3 separate regions of the Homo sapiens genome follow, and regions 1 and 3 are each linked to region 2. The links come from fine-mapping of genetic effects on gene expression. A gene starts in region 2. Each other region holds a variant in brackets. All regions are shown on one strand. Distances are between the middles of the regions.

Region 1 (8,181 bases), 670 kb before region 2:
CTGACTCAGTATCAATCTGTGCTTTTAGGGCATAAATATTCTGGAATGCTCCTCTAGAGTTGGGGAGGCTGCTGGGGGGGCTGGAGGAGAGAACATAATGGATGGGTAAGTGCCTGGTGGACTGTAAGTGCTTTACACATAGGAGGATGTGTTATTCTTGAGAACAGTCAGTTCCCAGCAAACATTATTTCAAAGGTCAGTGTGCAAGGCAAGTCTTTCTTTCTGAATCTTCACCTCCTGTGCCCTCCCCGAGTGTCTCCCTCTGTCCACCTCTGGGTGTGCATCTTTTTCACGTTTGGTGCCTTCCTCTCCAGCAGCATCTTTTGGTCTTTCCTCCTATCTTTTCCACCTGTCTCTCTCGTCTCTTCTTGGGTTCTGCCTCTTCCCTGGCTGTCTCGGATCAGTCCCGTCTGCTTCTCTGTCTGTCTGCCCTCAGGCCCCTCACAATCCTTCCCCCCATTTCCCCTGCCAGGTGCTGTTTCCAAGGCCACACATCAGTGTTTCCCATCCCTGAGTGATTTATACACCTGGTTCAGCCCAGGCAGTGCTGAGTGGAGCCTGTGCTGTTTTGGGAGCTGGTTCCTGCAAGGCAAGCTCCACCCTCCATCCCCAGGCAACAATCTCTGGGCATGTCCAGTTGTTTCTATTTTCTTCTGCTGGTTTGGGCCCCACACTAGTGCCACCTGCACCCCTGCCCCGTGGTCTTCCTGTACTCACAGACAGGTCCCTGAGCAGGCTCTGATCTGCCCCTCTCCCTCTTGTCCCTTCTTCCCCTGGTCTGTCTCCCCAGGCCTCTGATGCTACTCCTGGCTCTGCCTCCACATGACTCTCTTTTAACTAAGTTTCTCTCTCTCTCTCTATACCCCCTCCCTCTCCCTCTCTTGTATGCCACTGTCTCTCTCTAGCTGTGCCTCTATCTCAGTCTGTGCCTCTTTATATTTGTTTCTGTCCCTCCCCCATTTAGCATACAGCATTTCAGTGATGCCAGAGGCTGCAAGCTGGTGAATGTGGAAGTTGCAGATCTCTGAGGATCCAGTTGTGAAAATTATACAGCATCACCTCTGCTGCATTCCACTGGTCAAAATAGATCAAGAGTCAGATTCCATGGGAAAGGAAATAGATTCTGCCTATTGATGGGAGGAGCAGCTAAAAAGTAGTGTCCATCTTTAATTTAACAACCCTCCAGCCTATTCCCCAAGCCAGATTACCCTCAGACATCTGGGGCCTGACCTGGGACCCTGGGCCACACTGTCTCCACCCTGGCTCCCCCCTTGTCTTTCATGTCACGTTGAGGAAGTTTCCTGAACTCCCAGTGACACTGTTGTCAGGGCCTGACTTACCAGGAGAGCATGAATAATTAAAAGCTGTATCTGAGGCTTGTTCTGATTTAAGCTGTATTAGTGTTGCCAACTGTCCTGACCCATTTAATATTCATGCCATTCTTGGCTCTTTTAAAGAGAGGGAAGTTTGCTACCTGATTGAAATTGCACCTGTCAGTTTCGATTAAAGATCGGGTTGACCACAGTTGCAGGGAAATTAAATGAACATTCTCTTAAGCAAAATCATAGAATTTAATGTAGCAATTAATATCTATTGCAATGTGCTGCCATCACAAGCTGCTTGAAATGTAATGTAAGGCTCATGGGGGATGAGGCCAGCAGTGCCCCAGAGTCTTGAGTCTTCAGAAATGGGTCCCTAAACGGGCCTGGTATTTAACTGACTTCTTTCTCCGACAGGAGCAGAAAACACAGATAACAGCTATTGTTCCTTAAGGCTTGGGGTAGATCATGTAGCCTTTCATCCAGTTCACATTTGGGAAAACTGAGGCATGGGGCATCAGAGACTTGTTCAAGGCCAGTTTTGGTTTATTGTAGAAGTGGAGCATGAAACAGTGGGAGGGCCAGCCCCTCAGGGTCAGGAACACCCAGGTGACGGTGCAGACACTGCAGTGGAGGAAGACACGGGGAGACCGTCTGAGCTCTTTTCAGGTAATAGTGCTGGGAATGTCTCTGAGGACCTGCAGGAGTGGAGGTCATTTAGGGTGAAGAAGTGGCAAATAGGTTTCAAGGTGTGGGCTGATTCTGATGGATTAATAGCAACCATCCTGGAGAAGGGCCTGAGTGGGTGCCCTGATCAGATAGCTGGATCTGCCATGGGCGAGGAGAGGGAAGTGGTATGTGAACGTGTTCCCCGCCTGCTGGAGGCAGAGGGCCACATAGAACAGGCATGTAACTGTAAGCCCTGGTTTCCTTATCTAGAAGACAGGATAATAACCTACTCCTGAGAGGGTCAGTGTGAGGAATAAACAGGCACATCAAGGCAAACTATGGGCTCACAAAAGGCTGTGGTGCCCAAGGGCTAGGAACGGAGGCTCAAGAGTAGAGCAGGTTGGCTTTGAGTCCTGCGTGGGTGTGTGTCCTCAGGCAAAATAACCTCTCTAACTCAGTTTCCTCAGCTACAAAATGTAGATAATAATTGTAACTTACCTCATAGATTTGCATGGAGGTTAAATATGTTAATACATGTAGCATGCTCAGAACAGGACCTGGTCCAAAAAATACTATGAATATTTGCCATTTCTAATGTGATGGTAAGAACTCAACACAAACAGGATGGAAATTGGTTGTTACTATCATATGAAATTGCTTGTCTAATGCTATATAAGAATAAGGCAAGCTGGGCGTGGGCACTCACCCCTGTAATCCCAGCACTTTGGGAGGCCAAGGCGGGCGGATCACCTGAGGTCAGAGTTCAAGACCAGCCTGGACAACATAGCGAAACCCCATCTCTACTAAAAGTACAAAAATTAGCTGGGCATGGTGGCAGTTGCCTTTAGTCCCAGCTACTTGGGAGGCTGAGACAGGAGAATCACCTGAACCCAGGAGGCGCAGGTTGCAATGAGCTGAGATGGCACCACTGCACCCCAGCCTGGGCAACATAGCAAGACTCCATCTCAACAAAAATCAATAAAAGAATAAGAAATTCATTTATTTTATTCTGTTCATTTAATCCGATTTATATAAAAGCTATATATATAGTATATATATAAATAATATATAAGTTATGAAGACAACAAAACAAACACCAGTGTTTCCACCCCAACTGATATGGTTTGGATTTGTGTCCCCACCCAAATCTCATGTCGTATTGGAGGAGGAGCCTGGCAGGAGGTGATTGAATCATGGGGGCAGATTTCCCCCTTGTTGTTCTCATGATAGTGAGTGAATTCTCATGAGATCAATGGTTTAAAAGTGTGTGGTGGCTGGGTGCAGTGGCTCACACCTGTAATCCCAGCACTTTGGGAGGCTGAGGTGGACAGATCACTTGAAGTCAAGAGTTCGAGACCAGCCTGGCCAACATAATGAAACCCCATCTCTACTAAAGATAGAAAAATTAGCTGGTCATGGTGGTCCATGCCTGTAATCCCAGCTGCTTGGGAGGCTGAGGCAGGATAATTGCTTGAACCCAAGAGGCACAGGTTGCAGTGAGCTGAGATCGTGCCACTGCATTCTGGCCTGGGTGACAGAGTGAGACTCCATCTCAAAGGAAAAAAAAAAAAGAAAAAGAAAAAGTGTGTGGCACTTCCTACTTTGCTCTCTCTCTCCCTCCTGTTCCATCATGGTAGGACAAGCTTCCTTCCCCTTGGCCTTCCACCATGATTGTAAGTTTCCTGAGGCCTCCCAGTCATGCTTTCTGTTAAGCCTGTGGAATTGTGAATCAAATAAACCTCTTTTCTTTATAAATTACCCAGTCTCAGGTAGTTCTTTACAGCAGTGTGAAAACGGACTAATACATCAACCTAAAAGCTAGAACATTCTGAAGCCACTGAAACTCTGGGGTGCTTCTCTCTAACTGGGGCCCCCGTTCCCTGCCACAGGTGACTCTCTGAATTTTAGGTTTATCATTCCCTTGTTTTCTTTAAAAATGTAGAGTCAGTGGCTTCTTGTAAATCAAAAAAAAAGTGTATGTATTTAGCAACTTTTCCATCAACTTTGTTTCTAAGATTCCTGCAGGATATTCATATGGCTGTAAGTGTAGTAGTCCACAAAGTGGCTCTGATCCACCCTGCTCACCCAGTTTGGGGTTTTATGATCACCACTGCTGTGAAGATTTCTGCTGGTGTCTCCAGGTGCTCATGGCAAGCATTTCTCTAAGGTGAGCACTTAAGAAGGAATCACTGGGTAGCAGGGCATGACAGCCTTGCTTTTTATGACTTTACCAGGTCCCTGGATGTATTCTGCAAATCACAAGGAAATCACACCAGGTCAGTCCTGGTCCTGCCAGAGCTCAAGGATAGG[C/G]AGTGGACATACCGACCTCTCAAGGCTCCAGGGCTCTGGGATTCTGCAGAACTGACAACAACCCTGTGTCTTCTGCTCGTCTACTCCCACTTTTCACACCCAAAACCTACATGGAGCTCCCCAGGACATAAGGTTCCTGGGGGATGAACAAGGTGAGCCCTGGGCTTCCACCAAGGGCTAGGGGCTGCATCTACTCTTCCCACCTCTTGGCACCAGAGCGGGGAAAGCAGCATCAGAGGAGAAATGGAAGGATTATGGATACCTTCAGTGAGGTCAACATAAGTAAACTCTACAGCTCAACTTCCACATCTGTTAAATGAGAGACTGTCTGCCTCAGATTGTTGTGAGAATTCAAGTGAATTAAGTACAGTGCTTAGAAGAGTGCCTGCCATGTAGGAAGCACCCAAGAAATGTTAACGATATTATCACACACACAAATACACAAACACAACATCTATTCACCAGGTTACACACACATACACATACACATACAGATACACAGTAATGGCTTCCATTCACTTAGCTTATTTAATCTTTACAAGAATCCTGTGATGAAGGGATTCCCATTCCCATTTTATAGCTATGGAAATTGAGGCCACACAGTTAGTACTTGACTATTCAAACAGAGGCCTTTCTAACCTGAAAATGCAGACTCTTAATCTCCATGCTGTCCATCCCCTCTGCCTCTCCCACCACAAACATCACACATGTCACACAGTCCATTCGGTGTTTTATTGAACATCCTATATGTAGGGTGAGGCTTGGGGCTGTCAAAAAATATGTATCTCATGCAACCATCACAACTGTGAAAGGTGGCTATTATTTGATCCTTATTTGACAGGCAAAGAAACTGCAGTTTGGAGAGATGAAGTGGCTTGTTCCAATTTTCCCACTCAGTATGTGGCAGAGCTGTGACTCAAATCCATGGGCCCTGGAGCCCATGGTCAGCAGACTTGGGGAGCAGGTAGCCTTATGCCTTAGGTGAAGGCCAGGTGAGACTCAATCTATACAGCAGGTGCAGGTATGTGCATCCCTCCCTGCTGAGCCCCATGCTGAAGATGCATGGTAAGGAGATACCCAGGCACTGTGTGACATCTCCAGGGGTGGCCTCATGGGCTTTCCCTAATTCATTATGTTGGCCCGTGTCTGAGGAATGGCTGGGGAGGCAGAAGGGGTGGTCTTTAAGGTGTAAAGAGAATGGGTCCAGAAGCCCAGCATTGTCTCGATGCTTCCAGCATGGTCTTGGGAAGAAGGTGCCCTATTTGGTCTGCACAGGACATCACCCCAGAATGAAATGTGCAGTGATGGTTGGTGGAGGGAAGAGGGTCTCAGACCACCATGGCTCATGCTGACATCCTTTAAGATCTCCTTTATCAACTCTCTGGATCTAATTCTAGACCCCCAAGTTGCCTTCAGATGGGAATTCCATTTCTTTCCATTTACATGTGTCCGTGGGAAAAGATAGCACTGGTCAGCTGACCCCAGGTTCTGCTCTGCTTGACAATTCTATTTCTCATTATAAAGTGATAAATTGGCTTCTATGAGGGTGGCTGAGCAGCAAGTGGTTTTGAAACTTCAGGGAGAATAAGAATGACTAGGCTACTTGCTAAAATTGTAAATTCCTGGGCCCTCCCAGCATCTATGCTTCCAGGTCCTCTGAAGTGGAGCCAAGACTATGCAGGTCTAACAGGCTTCTTGGGTGTTTCTAATGCCGGTGATCCCAGTCCACATTGGAGAAACACACACAGAGTTGTGTCAATCTGCTGTAGTCAGGCTAGGCTGGGCTCTGCCACATTAATAAATATACTCTGACATCTTGGTAGCTTAACACAACAAAGGTTACTTTTCGCTCACGTCACAGTCTGATGTGGGTTGGGTAGTAACCCTTGGAGCTTTCCTCTTTGGTGACTCAGGGATTCAGGCTCCTTTCATCTTGCCCGGTGGATGTCTTCAGTACCTGACCTCCAAGGTCACTGATGAAGGAGAAGAAAAAGCATGGATAATCACTCTCCCAGGTGGGTTTTATGATCTGGCTTAGAAGTGATATCTACCGATTCTGCTCTCACCCATTGGGCAGAACCCATTCACATGGCCACAACTTAATTGTGAGGGAAGCTGGGAAATGTAGTCTTCTTGTGTGCCCAGGAAGAAGAAAATAAAATGGGACTTGGTGAACATACAGTATTGTCTCTGTCACACAGTTGGATCCATTCTGGGTGCATTAACAATACCAAGTTTCTGTACCTGTGAGGCAAAGAATAAGCGGCTGGGCTGTGTCTGCCTCCAGGAGGCTCTGCCAGCCTTCTCTTATGTTTCTCAGCTCACTTTAGAAGAAGTTCCGTCTCTTCTTGGTTGGCTACAATTCACAGCACAGTCACCACTTGCCCATCCTGTCCATGTGGTGATTGACATACCTATAGGATTTATCTTTGATTGAGTGCAATATTGGTTGAAGGGGATGTTTTAGAAACCACATTTGGGATCAGTGAGATCAATTTTTGTAATTGACTAGTGATGTCTGCCAAGGGATGGGAGGGGCTGATAATGGCATGAGTGCCCCACATTTGTCATTCTTGTCATGCCATTGTTAAAACCAAGTCTGATTCTACATAGCCCATCCCCACTTCTGCAAGTCCAAGTCTATCCTGCTGGGGAAAGAGTTAAGAATGTGTTTTGAATGACTTCTGGCACATGTTAAAAGAACCATAGATATTAGTTGTTATCTTAGTTCTCTCCCAATATTGGTTGGTTTTTCTGAACTCAAGGTAGTATAGCTGTATCCTCTCATGATAAGGATTTCACAAGTTAAATCTTGTAGATGTGGGCTGTCAACACAGAGTAGAACAGCACTGTTACCTCCCTCTTTCTATGTACTCTGACTCTATTAATACAGCCAAAGACTGTGTTTGTTTCTAGTGACACATCACCCTAGTGATACATGTTGGTCAGTTGTCTAAACACTACAAATCTGTCTCATGTAATTGCAACCAAGCTCTGTGTCTCAGCCTGTCTGCCTTTGTTCAGATTTTCTTTACCCGAGATTAGGACTTTGCATTTACCCCTGCAAGTTCCTGCATGTGTTTCATCTTGTTCAATTCACCCTCTAGATTGTCAAGGTCCCCTTTTTTTGCCATGAATATTCTTTTGTCTACTCTTAAATTGACTTTTCATAGCCAATGTGAAGCCTGGGTTGGCTCACAAAGAAACTTAGGCTGTAAGAATAATAATCTTCATCCTGTATCCAGCACTTGCTATATGTCAGTAGTATGTTCTTTACATATATGATCTCATTTGAACTTTATAATACCATGAGGTACATATCATAATCACCATCTTACAGGAGGAGAAGTCAACCTCAGTCCCAAGGTCTCACAGAAAATGATAGGGCTGGGATTTGAACCAAGGTCTATTGGATACCAAGAGTTAATGCTCCTGGCCACTGTATCACAATGCCAGAATGGAATGAAGACCACAGCAGAACCTAGTGCAATACTTGGAGTTGTTCTTGCAGACAGAACCTTCTCCAGCTAGTTTGAGTAGAAAGGGGTTTATTACAGGGATCAGGTAGCTCATAGAATTGCTAGGAGGATCAGGAAATAATGACAGGAGAAATATTCTGCAAACAGTAGAGCTTTTCTAGGGAAACCCCATGGCCACCACCTCCCACTGCTCAGCACCTAAGACCTGGGAATTGACTGCAGCCCTAGTGGGAGCTTCTCTAGGAGACCCCACTGCTACCACTGCCTGTGGCTCACTTCTGCCTTCTACGTCTCATCTGGTCTTTCTACTTGGAGAAACCTAGATCACACACGCAAACCTACTTATCAGAAGGTGTCAGAGAAATGCAGCTCTAGCTCTCTAGTCTCTACTGTATAGGAATATC
Region 2 (8,181 bases):
TGTGTTTTTCGTTGGTTGGTTGGTTGGTTTGGCTGGTTGTTTTTTTAGAGACAGGATCTTGCTCTGTTGCCCCAACTGGAGTGCAGTAGCCTGATCATAATTCACTAACTTCAAATTCTTGGGCTCAAGCAATCCTCTTGCCTCTGCCTCCTAAGTAGCTAGGACTATAAGTGTAAGCCACTGCGCTTAGCTAATTTTTTTATTTTTTGTAGAGAGGGTCTCACTATGTTGCCCAGGTTACTCAAACTCTTGGCCTCAAGCAATCCTTGCCCTCCCAAATGCCTTGGTTTCCCAGAGTGCTGGGATTACAGGCGCGAGCAACTGCATCCGGTCAAAAGGCATTGTTTTAACTGCTTCCTTAGGCACATTATCTAATATTCACAGCCACCTTTACTCTGCACATTGGCTAATTATCCTCATTTTAGCCATGAGAGATGAGAGAGTCATGAGAGAACTGAGACTCAGAGAGGTTAGGTAACTTGTCCAAATTCATATAGCTGGGAAGAGAAAGGTCTAGGATTCAAAGCTGGCTCTGTCTTGACTCCAGAGCCTATGTCCTGTTCACTATACCACACTGCTTAGGGACCAAGAAAAAGGTCTGAGAAGCTAAGGGAAGAGTACACTACAGCAAACTCAAATGCTTTTGGGAGCAAGGCAGGTAACAAAAATGCATGAAGGCCTAACATGAAGTAATGATGCTAAGGTGTTTATTACATTCCTATCCTAGTTGTATTCCCTCTTATTTATTTATTTTAATTTTTTTGAGACAGAGTTTTTGCTCTGTCCCCCAGGCTAGAGTGCAGTGGTGTGATCTTGGCTCACTGCAACCTCCCCGTCCCAGGTTCAAGCGATTCTCCTGCCTCAGCGTCCACAGTAGCTGGGATTACAGGTGTGTGCCACCACACCCAGCGAAGTAGAGATGGGGTTTCACCATGTTGGCCAGGCTGGTGTTGAACTCCTGTCTTGAACTCCTGACCTCAAGTGATCTGCTGGCCTTGGCCTCCCAAAGTGCAGGGATTACAGGTGTGAGCCACTGCGCCTGGCCTGTATTCCCTTTTAAAACAGAGCACAGAGCAGGCAAAATAACCAAATTAAACAAAGCCTTGGGCTGCCAGCCATGGGATACTGTATAGTCCTGATGCTGAGATATCAGTTAAGGGAAGGACCAAAAAGTATTCATGGTGAAGCAGTTTCAGTGGGGTTCAGGGAGCATAATACCAGTTGCAATGAGGTGGGGAGTGAGGATGTTAAGGAGGTTCCAGTTGTGAGTGTTGTCAACTCGTTCAAAACACTTCACTGGGAAGGAAAGGAAGGAAAACAGACTAGCAGGGATGGAAGGAGAATGTTAATATGGGAAGGACTTGGGCTCAGTTATGGCAGGACAAGACTTTTCAGTGGTGTGGTAATGAGGAAGAGGCAGCCTGCTGACAAGTTCAACTGGACTGGGGGAGAGGAGGTGGCCAGGTGCAGGAGATGGCTTTAAAAAGGTAGTTGGCCGGGTATGGTGGCTCTCACCTGAAATCCCAACAACTAAGGAGTCTGAGGTGGAAGAATCACTTGAGGCTAGGAGTTCTAGGCTGCAGTGAGCCACCAGGGTGCCACTGCATTCCAACCTTGGGCAACAAAGTAAGACCCCTATCTCTTTAAAAAAAAAAAAAAAAAAAAGGTAGCTGGAGCCTGTGGAGAGCCTGGAATGCCATGCCAAGGCATCTAGACTGTGATCTGGCAAAGAGTAGGAAACCACTGAAGGGATGTGTCATGTTGACAGTGATGCTGGCCGGGCGCAGTGGCTCATGCCTGTAATCCCAACACTTTGGGAGGCCGAGGCGGGCAGATCACCTGAGGTCAGGAGTTCGAGACCAGCCTGGCCAACATGGTGAAACCCCATCTCTACTAAAAATACAAAATTAGCCGGGCATGGTGCCCTGGTCCATGCCTGTAATCCCAGCTTACTCAGGAGGCTGAGGCAGAAGAATCGCTTGAAACCAGGAGGCGGAGGTTGCAGTAAGCCGAGATCGTGCCATTGCACACCAGCCTGCGCGACAAGAGTGAAACTCCATCTCAAAAAAAAAAAAGTGATGTCTTCTGACATTTAGCTTAGCAGCCAGTGCAAGGTAGAAGAGAGAAAAGAACAGTGATACAGAGGAACATAGCAATGCAGACAGAAAAACAAATGAAGGGATGAATGTAAGAAAGGTGTTGGAGGAAAAAGCATAATATGATGACTGATAAAAGACCCTGGGAAACAGATTTGGAAGCCAAGGCCCAAGTTTCAAGTTTGAGTAGCTGGAGGGAAAGATAATTAGTAGGTTTTGGAAGTACTGAAATTTACAGAAATGGTTGTTCATCAGAGTAAAAATATACAGCAGATGGCAAAAAGTAATCCTGGAGCTTAAGATGGAGGTAAGGAAGGGAGTCGCTGCCCTCAAAGAGAAATGGTTGGGGCCGGGCGTGATAGCTCACGCCTGTAATCTCAGCACTTTGGGAGGCCCAGGCGGGCAGATCACCTGAGGTCAGGAGTTCCAGACCAGCCTGGCCAACATGGTGAAACCCCGTCTCTACTAAAAATACAAAAATTAGCCGGGCATGGTGGCGGGCGCCTGTAATCCCAGCTACTCGGGAGGCTGAGGCAGGAGAATCGCTTGAACCCTGAAGGCGGAAGTTGCAATGAGCCGAGATGGCGCCACTGCACTCCAGCCTGAGCGACAAGGGCAAAATCCGTCTCAAAAAAAAAAAAAAAAGAAAAAAGAAATGGTTGGGAGGCCTTCGGAACAGCGTCGAGGAGGGAACTTCCCAGAGCCCCCAGGCGCATCCTCTGGGAACTGGACACACGGGGACGGACGGGACTGGTTTGCTTCATGGAGTATGAAACCAGGAGGGGCTTCACTTCAAGTAAACTTTTGGGAGGCGATGCAAACGACTCAGGACTTCTGATCCTTCCCTCGTCTAAAAGAAAAGTCAGTTACCATTTTTATTGAGTGCTTTCGGGGCCTTTCCATGATCTGACTGATTCCTCTCAGCCGCCCTGTGATGTGAGTGCCAGCTCCATGTTACGTAAGAGGAAGCCAAGGCTCAAACCCTGCCCGAAGTCACACAGCAAGAAATCACGAGCCGTGATTCCAACCCAGGTCCGTCTGACCCGAGCCTGCTCTAATGCCGTTCTGCCTGGGCTTTCCTCTGTTATAGGAACCTGAGGCCCCGCGCCAGCGGCCGGGGTCCCAAGCGCCGGGCTGGCTGTGTCGAGACCACCCCCAGCCCTGGCCCGGCCCTCGCCCTTTCGAGGGAAACCTACTCTCAGAAGCACAGCTCCCCAGCCGCGCCCAACGCCGCGCCGGCCTCTGGCTCGGACCAATCCCCCCGGGACGGTCCACCACCCAGACCAATTAGCTCCCGTCTTCAGGGCACCTCCCACCAAACCGCCTTCTGATTGGCTCGCTCTTCCCGTCACGGCGTTGCCCCAGCAACCGGACTATTGGGACGCTGCGGCCTGGCCTTCAGGCCACTGGCTACCGAACCCCGGGGCTCTTCACCAGTCCAGCTCGTTTCCAGCACCATGTCGGTGCGGACGCTACCGCTGCTCTTCTTGAACTTGGGCGGGGAGATGCTTTACATCCTCGACCAACGGCTGCGGGCCCAGAACATCCCGGGAGACAAGGCCCGCAAAGGTGAGAGGCCCCCGGCCCGCTCAGCCAGACCCGCAGCCAGCAGCCCGGCCCTCTCATCATCGCCCTAACACCCACAGCCAGACCCGCACCCCTACACACTTCACTCTTATAACCAGGGACCTTTCTTACAAGCCACATCCATTTGGAGCCCCTCGGGAGTCAAATCCCCCCAAAAGCTTTTTTCACAGCAGAGGAACTTAATACTCCCAGTGGACACTAGGGTGCCTGACCTCCCTAATTTCCCCATCTCTTCAAATGGGAGAGGTGATTTCCCAGTCTCTCTTGTCAATCAGTGCCTTCCAAATGTAGGAGTCCCAGCTGCCCACCATCTAGTATCATACCCCTTGCTAGTCCAAGCATCCTCTTTACCCCCAAGGAACAGGTTCTGATTTTTTTTTTTTTTTTTTTTTTTTTTTTTTTTTGAGACAGGGTCTCGCTCTGTCGCCCAGGCTGGAGTGTGTGGCACGATCTCGGCTCACTGCAACCTCTGCCTCCTGGGTTCCAGCGATTCTCGTGCCTCAGCCTCCCAAGTAGCTGGGATTACAGGCATGCACCACCACACCCAGCTAATTTTTGTATTTTTAGTAGAGATGGGGTTTCACCATGTTTCCCAGGCTGGTCTTCAATTCCTGGACTCAAACGATCTGCCCCCCTCGGCCTCCCAAAGTGCTGGGATTATAGGCGTGAGCCACCGCGTCCAGCCCAGGTTCAGATTCTTAATTTCTTTATGGTAGTATCTTCCCACATAAGCTGGAGATTGGTCTTACTCATCTCAGAAGTATTTCTAGAAATTTGGTGTTCTAAAATAATATAGATAAATATGAAAAAAATAAGAAAGTTATAAATCTCCTCACAAGTGTTGGAGGGGAATACAATTGTGAAAATAATTATATGAGAGCTTCGAAAATGCAAAATCTGCCTCCCATGGACACCACACTAATCCCCAGAAAAATGACGACTCAGAACACTCTGCCACTCTGTTCCTTTTCCTCTTTTCCTCCCTTCTCGGCAAACAACTTGCTTATACCAAATTTCCTAGGATTAAGTATGAAGGAAATATTATATTTCAAAGTGGAGGAGGAAAAGTTGAAAAGGCAATTGACATGGCCGCCAATTAAAACATTCTCTCCATTAATCTTTGTATGCTCAATTGATGTTCAACATACATATTCAGATGCTAAGCATACATATTCAGATATTAACTATTGTGTGTGTGTGACTGAGTGCAAGTCCATGCATAAAGAGCTAAAAATAACTCCCTATAACATACCCCCTCCATTCATTCTGCACATTGCCGCCAATGAGCTTTCTAAAATGTGTATCTGTCCAAACTTGCCCCTGCCTAAAACCCTTTGTCAGCTTTCCACTGCCATCTGGGTTAAGACCAAGTCCTTGCACAGGCCATTTCAGGGCCCTTCCTTATCTGATCTCTGTCTTCCTCTGCAGTCCCTTCTTCCACCACTGCCTGCCTCCTGTTTCCCAATAATACCAAACTGCTCATAGATCTCCGCTTAAACCATGTTTGTTCGTATTTCTGTGCTAGTAATTCCCATCCCTACATTCTTCCCCTTCAATCCTGCATTATTCGGCTTAAGAATCATCTCCTTCAGGAATCCTCCCCATATGCAGAAAGGGCCTGTGCATGCTCTCATAGCAGCCTGTGCTCCCATAGCACCCCATGCCTGCTCCTCAGTACCTTACCACTGGCCATGCTATACTGAAATGATCTGTGTATATGTCTATCTCCCGCTTGATTGTCTTATTCATCTTTGTACTCCAGCACCTACCATAATTCCTAGACCAGAATAAATTAGTGATCACAAAATGTTTTTTGAACTGATTATCTAAATTGGCAGTTTTATATAGCATTGTCATTTTTCCTTTGAGAGGGTTCTGTTTTCCTTGGTGCCTGTGTGATCTGATTTCATTCAGGCTAGTGGCACCAATGAGGTGACATGCTGGAGTCCTCAGACTGGTAGGTAGTCTGCATCTTGGAAGATAGTGTAAATTAGCAATTAAGAACATACTCTCTAGAGTCTTACAGACCTGGATCCCAATTCCAGCTTTACCATTTAACTAATTGCATGCCCTTTGGGTGTAACCTCTATAAACCTGTTTCTCCATAAAATGGTAATAATACATATATGTTAAAGCAAAGTTGTAAGGATTGAATGAAATAATGTATTTAATATGTTTAACACAATGAGTAATAGGTATCTTTCAAGAGGAGGTCTGGACAAGGCCCTTGGAATACTAGAGGACAGCTTTACCTTTAGGAGTTATAGCCTTTTTTCTGCTTTTGCTAAATATGGTTTTGGGAGTTTCGGCCATCTTTAGTAATTTACATTCGCACACTCATTCATTCCACAGATTTTGACTGAGTGTCAAACACTATGTGAGATACTATATGGAGCCTGATGCAGCCCTTCTGGACATTCACTGGAGGTAGGGCTATTGATCAGTCCACTCCAGTAACTGATTCTAGTGACAGCAATCAACAATAAAACAATGAAAAATCAAGCACTTACTTTGTACCAAGGGCTCCTCTTAAACACCTTAATCCTCCCAACTATTGTAACACATAGGTAATATTACTATCCCCATTTTACAGATGGAGAAACTAAGACTAATTTGCCCAGAGTTACATGGCTGGTAGGAGGAAAAGTAAAGGATTTGAGCCCAAGGCATCAGGCTCCAAAGTTCATACTCAGCCAATGTCCCCTTACTATAACCAATGTCCCCTCATATAACCAATGTCCTCATACTCAGCCAATGTCCCCTTACTATAACCACTTAGTCCCCTTACTATAACCACTATACTCTGCTGCCATACCTTGGGGACTATATCAGAATCTTAGTGGGGGTTGGTAGGTCAGGAGGAGAGGGAGGAGTCTGAAAAATATATATCCAATATACCCACTGATTTTATCAAATAAATGACAAAATAGTTGGCTGTTGGAGATCTGTAGAAGATAGAGTGAGAAAACAGGGTAGAGAGCATAGGATTCAACGGGCTGAGAAATACTCATGTCTTCCACCTATTCCACCATTTAAAGTTGTTGTGGCCACAGGAGCGAGAGCCCCTGTAACAGATCCCTGTACACAGGAGCCTATAAAACACTAGACTTGGTAAACTAGTCCTCTTCGAAGCTTTGAGTGGAAATCATATTTCTTCTAGATGTTTTCATTATCTTATACGACTAATTGGTCTCCTGGAGGCCATCCCTGTTCCCACAAGGCCAAGGCAGATGTTGCAGCTTCCCCCACAACGCAGCCTCTAGTTTAGCATTCAACAGAAAGGAAGTGCTCTCTCTATGAGGCAACTATCGAGTGTTGCATATTGAATGTTGTCTCCTGTTTAAAGCAATGGCGAGAATAATAAAAGCTACCTTTGCCTCTTAAAAATATTTATAAATAAGACCTTATTATCTTTTGCTTACATTCCTCATTTTACAGGAGAGGAAACTGAGGCATGTGGCCACAAAGTGATTTTTCCAAGACATGCCAATCACAGTGTAGCACAAGCAACCAAAGGGCAGTGAGACTCTGGTTTTATTTTTCTAGTTCCAGTTTAACGACTAGCTCTGAATAGCCTTGGGCCTGCCCCCACTCAAAACAGAACTAAAGTGGAGTTGTCACAAATAAGTCATCTGGAGAAATAATAGAAAAAGAGGGTGTTTCTCTTCCCTGTATTCTCAGGAGGAAAGGAGTAGGGGAGCACACAGCACTACAGAGACCCCTGCTGGCGTTCAGCCTGCCTGCCTTCGGGAGCATCTGCCAGTTCCATTTTATCAGCGAGAGTCACTGTCCTTCAGAGATGACCCCCTTGCAGCACCACTATTCCCCAAACACACCTGCAAGGGGATTAAAACTCCACCTCCTTGAATTCCCACAAGTCTATCACACTATACCACCAGTTAAATAAATGCTGCAGGGGCCGGGCGCAGTGGCTCACGCCTATATTCCCAGCATTTTGGGACGCCGAGGTGGGTGGATCACCTGAGGTCAGGAGTTCGAGACCAGCCTGGCCAACATGGTGAAAACCCATCTCTACAAAAAATACAAAAATTACCCTGTTGTGGTGGCAGGCGCCTGTAATCCCAGCGACTCAGGAGGCTGAGGCAGGAGAATCGCTTGAACCCGGGAGGCAGAGGTTGCAGTGAGCTGAGATCACGCCACTGCACTCTAGCCTGGGCGACAAAGCAAGTCTCCCTCTCAGAATAAACAAATAAAAAATAAATGCCAGGCCGGGTGTGATGGCTCACACCTGTAATCCCAGCACTTTGGGAGGCCAAGGTGGGCAGATCACCTGAGGTCAGGAGTTCAAGACCAGCCTGGCCAACATGGAGAAACCCCGTCTCTACTAAAAATAAAAAATTAGCCGGCATGATGGCAGGTGCCTGTAATCCCAGCTACTCGGGAGGCTGAGGCGGGAGAATCGCTTGAACCTGGGAAGTGGAGGTTGCAGTGAGCCGAGATCGCACCATTGCACTCCAGCCTGGGCAACACAGTAAGA
Region 3 (8,181 bases), 30 kb after region 2:
AAAAAAATAGTTCTGTTTGTTAAAATACAGTTAACTCTGCAAGTGTAATTTTTTCTCCCTTCTTTTTTTTATTTTTTTATTTTTTTGAGATGAAGTCTTACTCTGTCGCCCAGGCTGGAGTGCAATGGCACGATCTTGGCTCACTGCAACCTCTGCCTTCCAGGTTCAAGCAATTCTCCTGCCTCAGCCTCCTGAGTAGCTGAGACTGCAGGTGCCCACCACCACGCCCGGCTAATTTTTTGTATTTTTAGTAGAGACAGGGTTTCACCGTGTTAGCCAGGATAGTCTCTATCTCCTGACCTCATGATCCGCCTGCCTCAGCCTCTCAAAGTGCTGGGATTACAGGCATGATCCACTGCGCCCAGCCTCTCCCTTCTTATTGTTATAAACTCATAGGTCATGTTCCCAAACCATTACGCACTTTCCACCCTCAGAATATTGATGTCTATGAAAATATACCAAGAAAAATGACAATAAATGTATTTTTTTCCAGGTATCCATGTTTCTAAAGGACAAAGTTCAGAATAATAACGGTCGCTTTGTGTTGCCGGTGTCCGGGCCTGTTCCTTGGGGAACTGAAGTTCCAGGACTCATCAGGTGAATTCCCAACAATGATCAGAGCTATGTTTGGGGTGCTAGGAAATCAGCACATGGGCCGCACACGGAATGCCGCACTGCCAAGCCACTCACAGTCTGCCCAGCCCTTCTCTTTCTTCAGTAAAACAGCTATTGAAAAAGTCAGGTTCTAATCCCCACCTTGTCACTTAGTAGAGGGACTTGAGGCAAGTTACCCAGTTCCCCAGGACTAATTTCCTCATCTGTTAAATGGTTACTGTGTGGATGAATAAGATAATAGTGCTCTAACGTGCTTACAAAGCAATTGGCACATACATATGCTCAATAAATATTATTATTGTATTATTATTATTATTATTACAACCAGCACCTTTATCTTGAAGGAGAGCATGTATTCCTTTTTTGTTCTGTAGTACAAAGAATAAAGAAGCCTCCAGGACTACCTAAGCTTGGAGAACATTCCATCATGTCATACTTTGTATTGTAGAATGTTCAACAACAAAGGTGAAGAAGTGAAGAGGATAGAATTCAAGCATGGTGGAAACTATGTCCCTGCACCCAAAGAAGGTTCTTTTGAACTTTATGGAGACCGAGTCCTGAAACTGGGAACTAACATGTAAGCAAATTCTTCTCTGAGTGAATTCAAGTCCAAGGGAGGTCACTTCATTTAAAAAAAAAAAAAGAGAAACAGCCAGACTTCTGCTATGAAAATCCCTGCCGACAATAGGAGTAATTTCCCCTTAGGTACACTGCATACAGAGGCCTGACATTTCAAAGGGCACCCAGGAACGCCAAACATAAGGCAACTCAACAGAATGAAAAGATACATGATGTTCAATAGCCATGCAAGAGAACTAGCCAAAATCTGTGTTGCAGTGGAAATCCAGAAAGACTTATCCGTTCTGTAAAGCTGCATATATTTTCAGTGATGCGTGTTACTCTTCACAAGAGGAGGCATTGCCACCCAGCCTCCCCAGGTGTTTTTCTTTAGGAAGAAGTGAAATGTGAATGGTTAACACACACTCAGTTGCATTCTGTACCCACAGCACCTTTCTGGATGCTATTTAATGTCTCAGAATAAAAGCTACAAACTATGCTTACGAGTTAGAGAGAAGTCCGTGGAAAGGGGCTGGATAATGTCACCATTTTCTGTTGACACACCAGGTACAGCGTGAATCAGCCTGTGGAAACTCATGTGTCTGGATCATCAAAGAACTTAGCCTCATGGACCCAGGTGAGCTTCTGCCTTCCTTGCCTACCCTCACAGCTTCTCTCTAGATACGGAAGTCTACATAAAGAGAGGTGAGAACGCTTTAGATTTCGGATCTAGCCAACATTTCCCCTGTTGTGTGCAATCTTCTCCATTCCACCTTACGAGTACACAGGTTTTAATTGTAGCTTTTCATGGAGACTTCCAGTGATCTCACTAATTAGGTAATTTTAGGCTTGGCTCGGCCACCATAATTAAGAGGAACCACACACCAGGACATATGCAGTAGCGTAGTACCAGTGCCATTAGGTCCGTGATTGCTGACATCAGCACTCGTGTGTATTCTGATCATTAAAACATTTCTTTTTAATGTTTCCCTCTATAGCACCGTGGTAGCTAAGTCAGAGTGGGGGGTTTTAGTTTCTCTGAATTCCATCCTTAGAAGTTTTCGCTGAACTAGCTCCCAGCTAGCTGTAGGAGAGATCACAGAATATTAAATTATTCAGCAAACATTTATTAAACTGCTTCTATGGGCTGGGGACCCAGGGACACGAAGCTGACGTAGATGTGGTCCCATCTTGAAGGGGCCTGTGGTACCCTGGGAAAGACGGTGAAAGAAACAACTCAAATGAGGTGGAGGAAGGGCTGGCTGGGGATCCTGCACAAAGTGCTGTGCCAGAGGAATTCATGTCTGTCCAGTGGACAGGGATCACAGGGATCAAGAAGGCATTTCAGAGGCGGGGATATTGAAGTGGGGCTCTAGAGTAGGTAAACTATGAAACAGCAGAGAGGGAGAAATGGGCACACGGACCAAGGTGACAGAGGGGCAAGAGTGTTCCCGGGAGGAGGATGGCGGTGTCTCCCACGAGGCTTACGTAACGGATCACAGTATCATGGAGGCTTGCTGGCAGAGACTCGCCTGGACAGGACCCTGGGGCCTGACCAGGAAGGGTGGTAAACAATTTGGGCTTTGTTCTTTCGACAGGAGGCAGAGGGCTTTGTTTCAAGCCAGGGAGAAATGAGACAAAAACTGCATTTAGGTAACTGGTGGTGGAGTGAGGGGAGAGGCAGAACAGGGGAGGCCAGGCTACAAGGAAGAGGGGTACAGGATGAGGCAGGATGAGGACTGTGAGAGGAGGGAATGGACTCGAGGGTGTGTTCCCGGCCGTCACCACCTGAGGGCAGTGTGGCAGCGCCTCTGGAAGGAGACTGGACTGAGGCGACTTGTAAATGCTGAGGGAAACCGATTGACAGGAAAGGAAGCCATACACTTCTTCAAGGAGGAAGGTAGTGAGAGGAGAAACGTGGATCCCTGGGGCTTCCACTCTTGCGGAAAGTATGAAAATCTCTGGTTTGCAAAGTTGCTACATTCCCTCTGCTACTGACGTGATTGTTTTTCTTTTGGTTAAGGCTGCTTTCTACACTTTATTTGGACCCAGAAATAATTTAAATAGCAATTGTTCTACCTTATTTTATAATACCTACCTGTGTCTCTGAGGTTTTAGCAGGAAATGTGATTGCCTTCATGTGGCTAAAAATCATGCAACTGTTTCTGCAGGAAAGCATTGCTCCAAACCCTCTTGCTAAAGAAGAGCTGAATTTCTTGGCCAGGCTGATGGGAGGGATGGAGATTAAGAAACCCAGTGGCCCTGAGCCC[G/A]GATTCCGGTTGAATCTCTTTACCACCGATGAAGAAGAGGAGTATGTTTTAAACCTGTTTCGTTAAAGACATATAAAAATCCCAAGCATGACAAGAACACAAAATGACTATTACAAACCAGTGGCACTTATAAATATTTGTGTAAATATCACAAATAAAATACCAACAAATTTAATAATCTAAATAGCCCACCAGGATGAAATGGCCTGAATCTTCCAGAGTCATTCAAAAAAAGAGATGGGGCCGGGTGCAGTGGCTCACGCCCGTAGTCCCAGCACTTTGGGAGGCCAAGGCAGGCGGATCACAAGGTCAGGAGGTCGAGGCCATCCTGGCTAACATGGTGAAACCCCGTCTCTACAAAAAAAAAAAAAAAATTAGCTGGGTGTGGTGGCACGCACCTGTAGTCCCAGCTACTCGGGAGGCTGAGGCAGGAAAATCACTTGAACCCGGGAGGCAGAGGTTGCAGTGAGCCAAGACTGCACCATTGCACTCCAGTCTGGGAGACACAGCAAGACTCTGTCTCAAAAAAAAAAAAAAAAGAGACGGTGTGATGGTGCGCACCTGTAGTCCCAGCTACCCACGAGGTTGAGGCAGAAGGATCGTCTGAGCCCAGGAATTTAAGGTTAAGCAAGCTGTGATCATGCCACTGCATTCCAGCCTAGGAGAGAGAGCAACACCCTGTCTCTAAAAAATGATAATAAACAAAACAAAAAAAGAGTTATAATGTTTTACTTATCAGAGAACAGCTGAATAAGCAGTGTTAGAAGCCAGGATGACCAGATTAAGACAGTGTGTTAAGAAACCAGAGTGAGGTTGGAGCTTGATTTCCCTGTATTAGACAGTATAACCCAAAACCAACAGCAATAGTAAATCACCCACGGTGATTTATAGTGCTTTACAGTTTACAGAGCACTTTTGCATGCATTATCTCATGTGATCCTCCTCAAAACCAAGTATTTGGCGTGAGTGTCACCTTTCATTGAACTATTAATAACTTCTTTTGTTTAATTCTGTGTGACAGGTACTATGTAAAGTCCTGGGAATGCAAAGATGTAAGACCTAGAGCCTGTCCTCAGGAAGCTCTCAGCTTAGTGGGAGAGTGAACGTGTACAGATATAAGTTATTTCAGTGCTGTGTCATGAATGCGCTAATTGAGGACAGTGACTGACTTTGCACTGGCAGATTGAAGGAGCTGGCATTTGATCTAGGTCTTGGAGTTTGCCAAGCAGAGGAAGGGAAGAAACATTCTTGGCAGGGCTTATAATGTGCAAAGTCACAGAGAGATAAAAGAACTTGACTTTCTAGGTCGTAGGGTACATTGGTGGGAGATGGGGTAGAAAGTTTAAGAGAAATGGCAGATGAGGCAGAAAAAATAGGTTGCCAACTGATCAAGAGCCAGTTTGCCATGCTGGCAGGGAAAGAACCCTAATGTTGCACCCATTTTCTTTACCATCTCATCCAGACAAGCAGCGCTAACCAGGCCAGAAGAGTTATCCTATGAAGTTATCAACATACAAGCCACCCAGGTACGTACAGGGGATAACACAGGGTCCAATCGTATTCGCTTCCTCATCTTTTTTTTTTTTTCTTGAGACAGGGTCTCGCTCTGTCACCCAGGTGAAGTGCAGTGGCTTGATCTCAGCTTACCGCAACTTCCACCTCCCAGGTTTAAGCAATTCTCATGCCTCAGCCTGCCGAGTAGTTGGGATTACAGGTGCCCGCCAATATGCCCAGCTAATTTTTTTTTTTTTTTTGTATTTTTAGTAGAGGTGGGATTTCACCAAGTTGGCCAGGCTGGTCTTAAACTCCTGACCTCAAGTGATCCACCCGCCTTGGCCTCCCAAAGTGCTGGGATTACAAAGGTGAGCCACCGTACCCAGCCTCCCTTCCTCCTTTCCTCATCTTATATAACGTTGAACTTCAGAGACCCTCTTTTTCAAGCAGGATTCAGACTACAATATAGCTGTTAAGTGCTGTATTGTCATTCCCCCTGCTCAAATTAAAGTTGTTTCTTAACTATACCCATCTGCTATTCTGTAGCAGCCAGGGATGCTTGGTCACATACATGTTGATTAAGAAAAAAAATATATAGACCCTCTTCTTCTCTCTGATCAGCCTGTAACTACAATCCCTTTTCTGACAAACAGGTGCGCAACTGAAACATATCAGTCATGGGACAAAAAACTAAGTGCCTAGTGCACAAAGAGGCGGCCTGCCAGCACAGCCTCTTCATGCCCTTTTACCTCTCATTTCCCTCATAGGACCAGCAACGGAGCGAGGAGCTGGCTCGAATCATGGGGGAGTTTGAGATCACGGAGCAGCCAAGGCTGAGCACCAGCAAAGGGGACGATTTGCTCGCCATGATGGATGAGTTATAGCTGTTCTGACCAGGCGTCCTCTGCCCCCAGGGAGAGGCTGCTGGATGGTGACCCCTGGGGAATGCCCCATGGCCCAGAATGATGCTGCTAGTTTTCTACTGAGTGAAGCCATTACGTCTATTTCTTATTTATGTTGTAAGGAACTGTGTGAGTCTCCCTTGAGGAGCACTCACTCTTGAAGGCACACACATACACATATTTTCAGTGAAATATATTCTGACTTTTAAACTTGACCTTTCCCATTTTATTCTTAATTCTGTGGCAGCCACCAAAAGCCTCCTGAGCCATAGGTTTGAGCCCCAGAGTGGGTAAGGGGTCACCCCTACTGTCATTTTCAGGATTACTATTTCAGCTTTCCTGTGGGGATCTACAAAGGCCTGTAAACATTAACAAAATCCTTGGCTTTCTGGGATACATTCTGCCTGTAGGCAAGCTTGAAATCAATGACTGTTCGAGGCAGTTGCCATAAACAGTGAGGGCTCAGTGTAAAAGACCCTCTTCTCCATGGCTCACTAGGAACTGTAACCTCAGAGGAAGAGTAAGCAAGGCCGTGACAGGGAACACTCAGCTGGCCCCAGGCAGGACATGCCAGCATCTGTACTTCCCGCACGTCCGTCTATCCATGCGGTGTCAGTTTATCCCATACTGACATGTATACCAAGAGAATATTTTCTTCTTTTCAGCATGACATGTACTCCTTACCCCCAGGGTCTTCCTCTACCCCTGAGTGTGCTTTGCCTTCTAAAGACACCCAGCATAGGCCGGGCACAGTGGCTCAGGCCTATAATCCCAGCACTTTGGAAGGCTGAGGTGGGCGGATCACGAGATCAGAAGATCGAGACCATCCTGGCTAACACAGTGAAACCCCATCTCTACTAAAAATACAAAAAAAATTAGTTGGGTATGGTGGCAGATGCCTGTAGTCTCAGCTACTCTGGAGGCTGAGGCAGGAGAATAGCATGAACCTGGTAGGCAGAGCTTCCAGTGAGCCTAGATCGCGCCACTGCACTCCAGCCTGGGTGACAGAGCGAGATTATGTCTCAAAAAAAAAAAAGATACCCGGCAGGATGCACTGTGACATCGGTCTCCTCTGCATCACCGTGAGTCACCAAACAGCACCCTAGATTGGGTGCATGGGAGGCACGTGTGGTATGCACCTTTCCCTTCTGCATTCTAGCTGAGCCGCTTCCCTGGGCGGGAGCAGACTTTGCAGGATGCAGCAGGAGGCCAAGTCTCACTGGAATCCATGTAAAATGTCTCCAGCCAGGGCTGCCCTTACTGCTTCAGAAAGGCGCAGCAGCCCTCTGCCATAGGCTCCTTCCCAGGACTGAGTAACTGGCAGGTTCAGACCCATTCAATCCTATGGAAGGAATATCCAGAATGGCAGAGGGCTGGAGAGAAACTAAGTTGAGCTGGACATTGCCTGAGATTGGGCCAACTACAGGAACCTCTCCATCCCCTCACACCTGGGACGGACCAAGGTGAACATCATTCTAGAATGTAATGGAAGCTGCCCTTTGGCTTTTCCAAAGGCAAAGGGTTTAGATACAGAATGTAAATCACCAAGGGCTGGGCATGGTGGCTCATGCCTGTAATCCCCAGCACTTTGGGAGGCCGAGGCGGGCAGATCAGTTGAGGTCAGGAGTTCGAGACCAGCCTGACCAACATAGAGAAACCCTGTCTCTACTAAAAATACAAAATTAGCCAGGCCTGGTAGCGCATGCCTGTAATCCCAGCTACTCAGGAGGCTGAGGCAGGAGAATCGCTTGAACCCAGGAGGTAGAGGTTGCAGTGAGCCAAGATCATGCCATTGCACTCCAGCCTGGGCAACAAGAGCGAAACTCTGTCTCAATTAAAAAAAAAAAAAAGAATATAAATCACCAAATAAATGTTAATTGCTCCCTACCCATTAAAGTTACACTTCCTTACCTATAAAGACACCCTCCCCCTCCACATACTCACGAAAAGTCTGTTGGGGAGGAGAAGCATATTGTGCTATAAAACACCTGTTGCATCAGATGTACAAAGTGCCTTTCGTTTTAGTCTCTTTTCAGCAATCTGGCCACCATTCAGGGGGGCCTGACTGGGTGACAGATGAATGGGAAGGTTCTGACCTGTTTTGAGTCCGGCTCCCACCTTGCTGTCACATATCAGAATGTCACTGCTCTGAGTGTGTCCCAGGGCCTTGGAGGTGGGCCGTGAGGTGCCGAGAAGCAGCCGCAGCCTCCTCCCTCCACCTATCCCAGAGCGATGCTGGTGATTTCAAACGTATCTGTCCTATCAGTAAATAAACAAGATGCAGATCTCTGGTATGACAGCTCCATGATGAGGCAATCTGTGAGTTTCATGTCTCTAGACTT

Which allele goes with the higher level. Alleles are on the strand shown, and positions count from the first base shown. SD is a standard deviation of normalised expression in the study named. Not every link is listed here.
With allele G in place of A in region 3, the expression in testis of the gene that starts at base 3,472 in region 2 is higher (small effect, 0.31 SD a copy in GTEx).

Evidence for each region. PIP is the estimated chance that this variant, and not a neighbour inherited with it, causes the effect.
Region 1: its variant is fine-mapped to the expression of OSCP1 in subcutaneous fat (GTEx, PIP 0.91).
Region 3: its variant is fine-mapped to the expression of OSCP1 in testis (GTEx, PIP above 0.99). The same link has a PIP of 0.9 or more in esophagus muscle, nucleus accumbens, ovary, prefrontal cortex and tibial nerve.

What each region holds. Positions count from the first base shown.
Region 1 is chr1:37,111,685-37,119,865 of GRCh38, reverse strand. No RefSeq gene overlaps it. Among named protein-coding and RNA genes, the nearest start is that of MIR4255, 46 kb to the left of the region's middle. RefSeq lists an enhancer at 4,948-5,117. The variant C/G (reference allele first, on the strand shown) is at 4,299.
Region 2 is chr1:36,445,742-36,453,922 of GRCh38, reverse strand. OSCP1 (organic solute carrier partner 1) reads left to right here and starts at 3,472. Exons shown (of 10, transcript NM_145047.5): 1 at 3,472-3,665. The coding sequence starts at 3,554. It overlaps LOC107984940 (a long non-coding RNA gene), which reads right to left. Exons shown (of 3, transcript XR_001737976.2): 3 at 4,358-4,465. RefSeq lists a silencer at 3,077-3,346 and an enhancer at 7,261-7,555.
Region 3 is chr1:36,415,779-36,423,959 of GRCh38, reverse strand. It overlaps OSCP1 (organic solute carrier partner 1), which reads left to right. Exons shown (of 10, transcript NM_145047.5): 5 at 494-597; 6 at 1,064-1,192; 7 at 1,741-1,810; 8 at 3,345-3,484; 9 at 4,906-4,969; 10 at 5,705-6,054. The coding sequence ends at 5,821. SNORA63C (small nucleolar RNA, H/ACA box 63C) reads left to right here and starts at 5,382; the gene lies at 5,382-5,512. RefSeq lists an enhancer at 2,223-2,722. The variant G/A (reference allele first, on the strand shown) is at 3,444.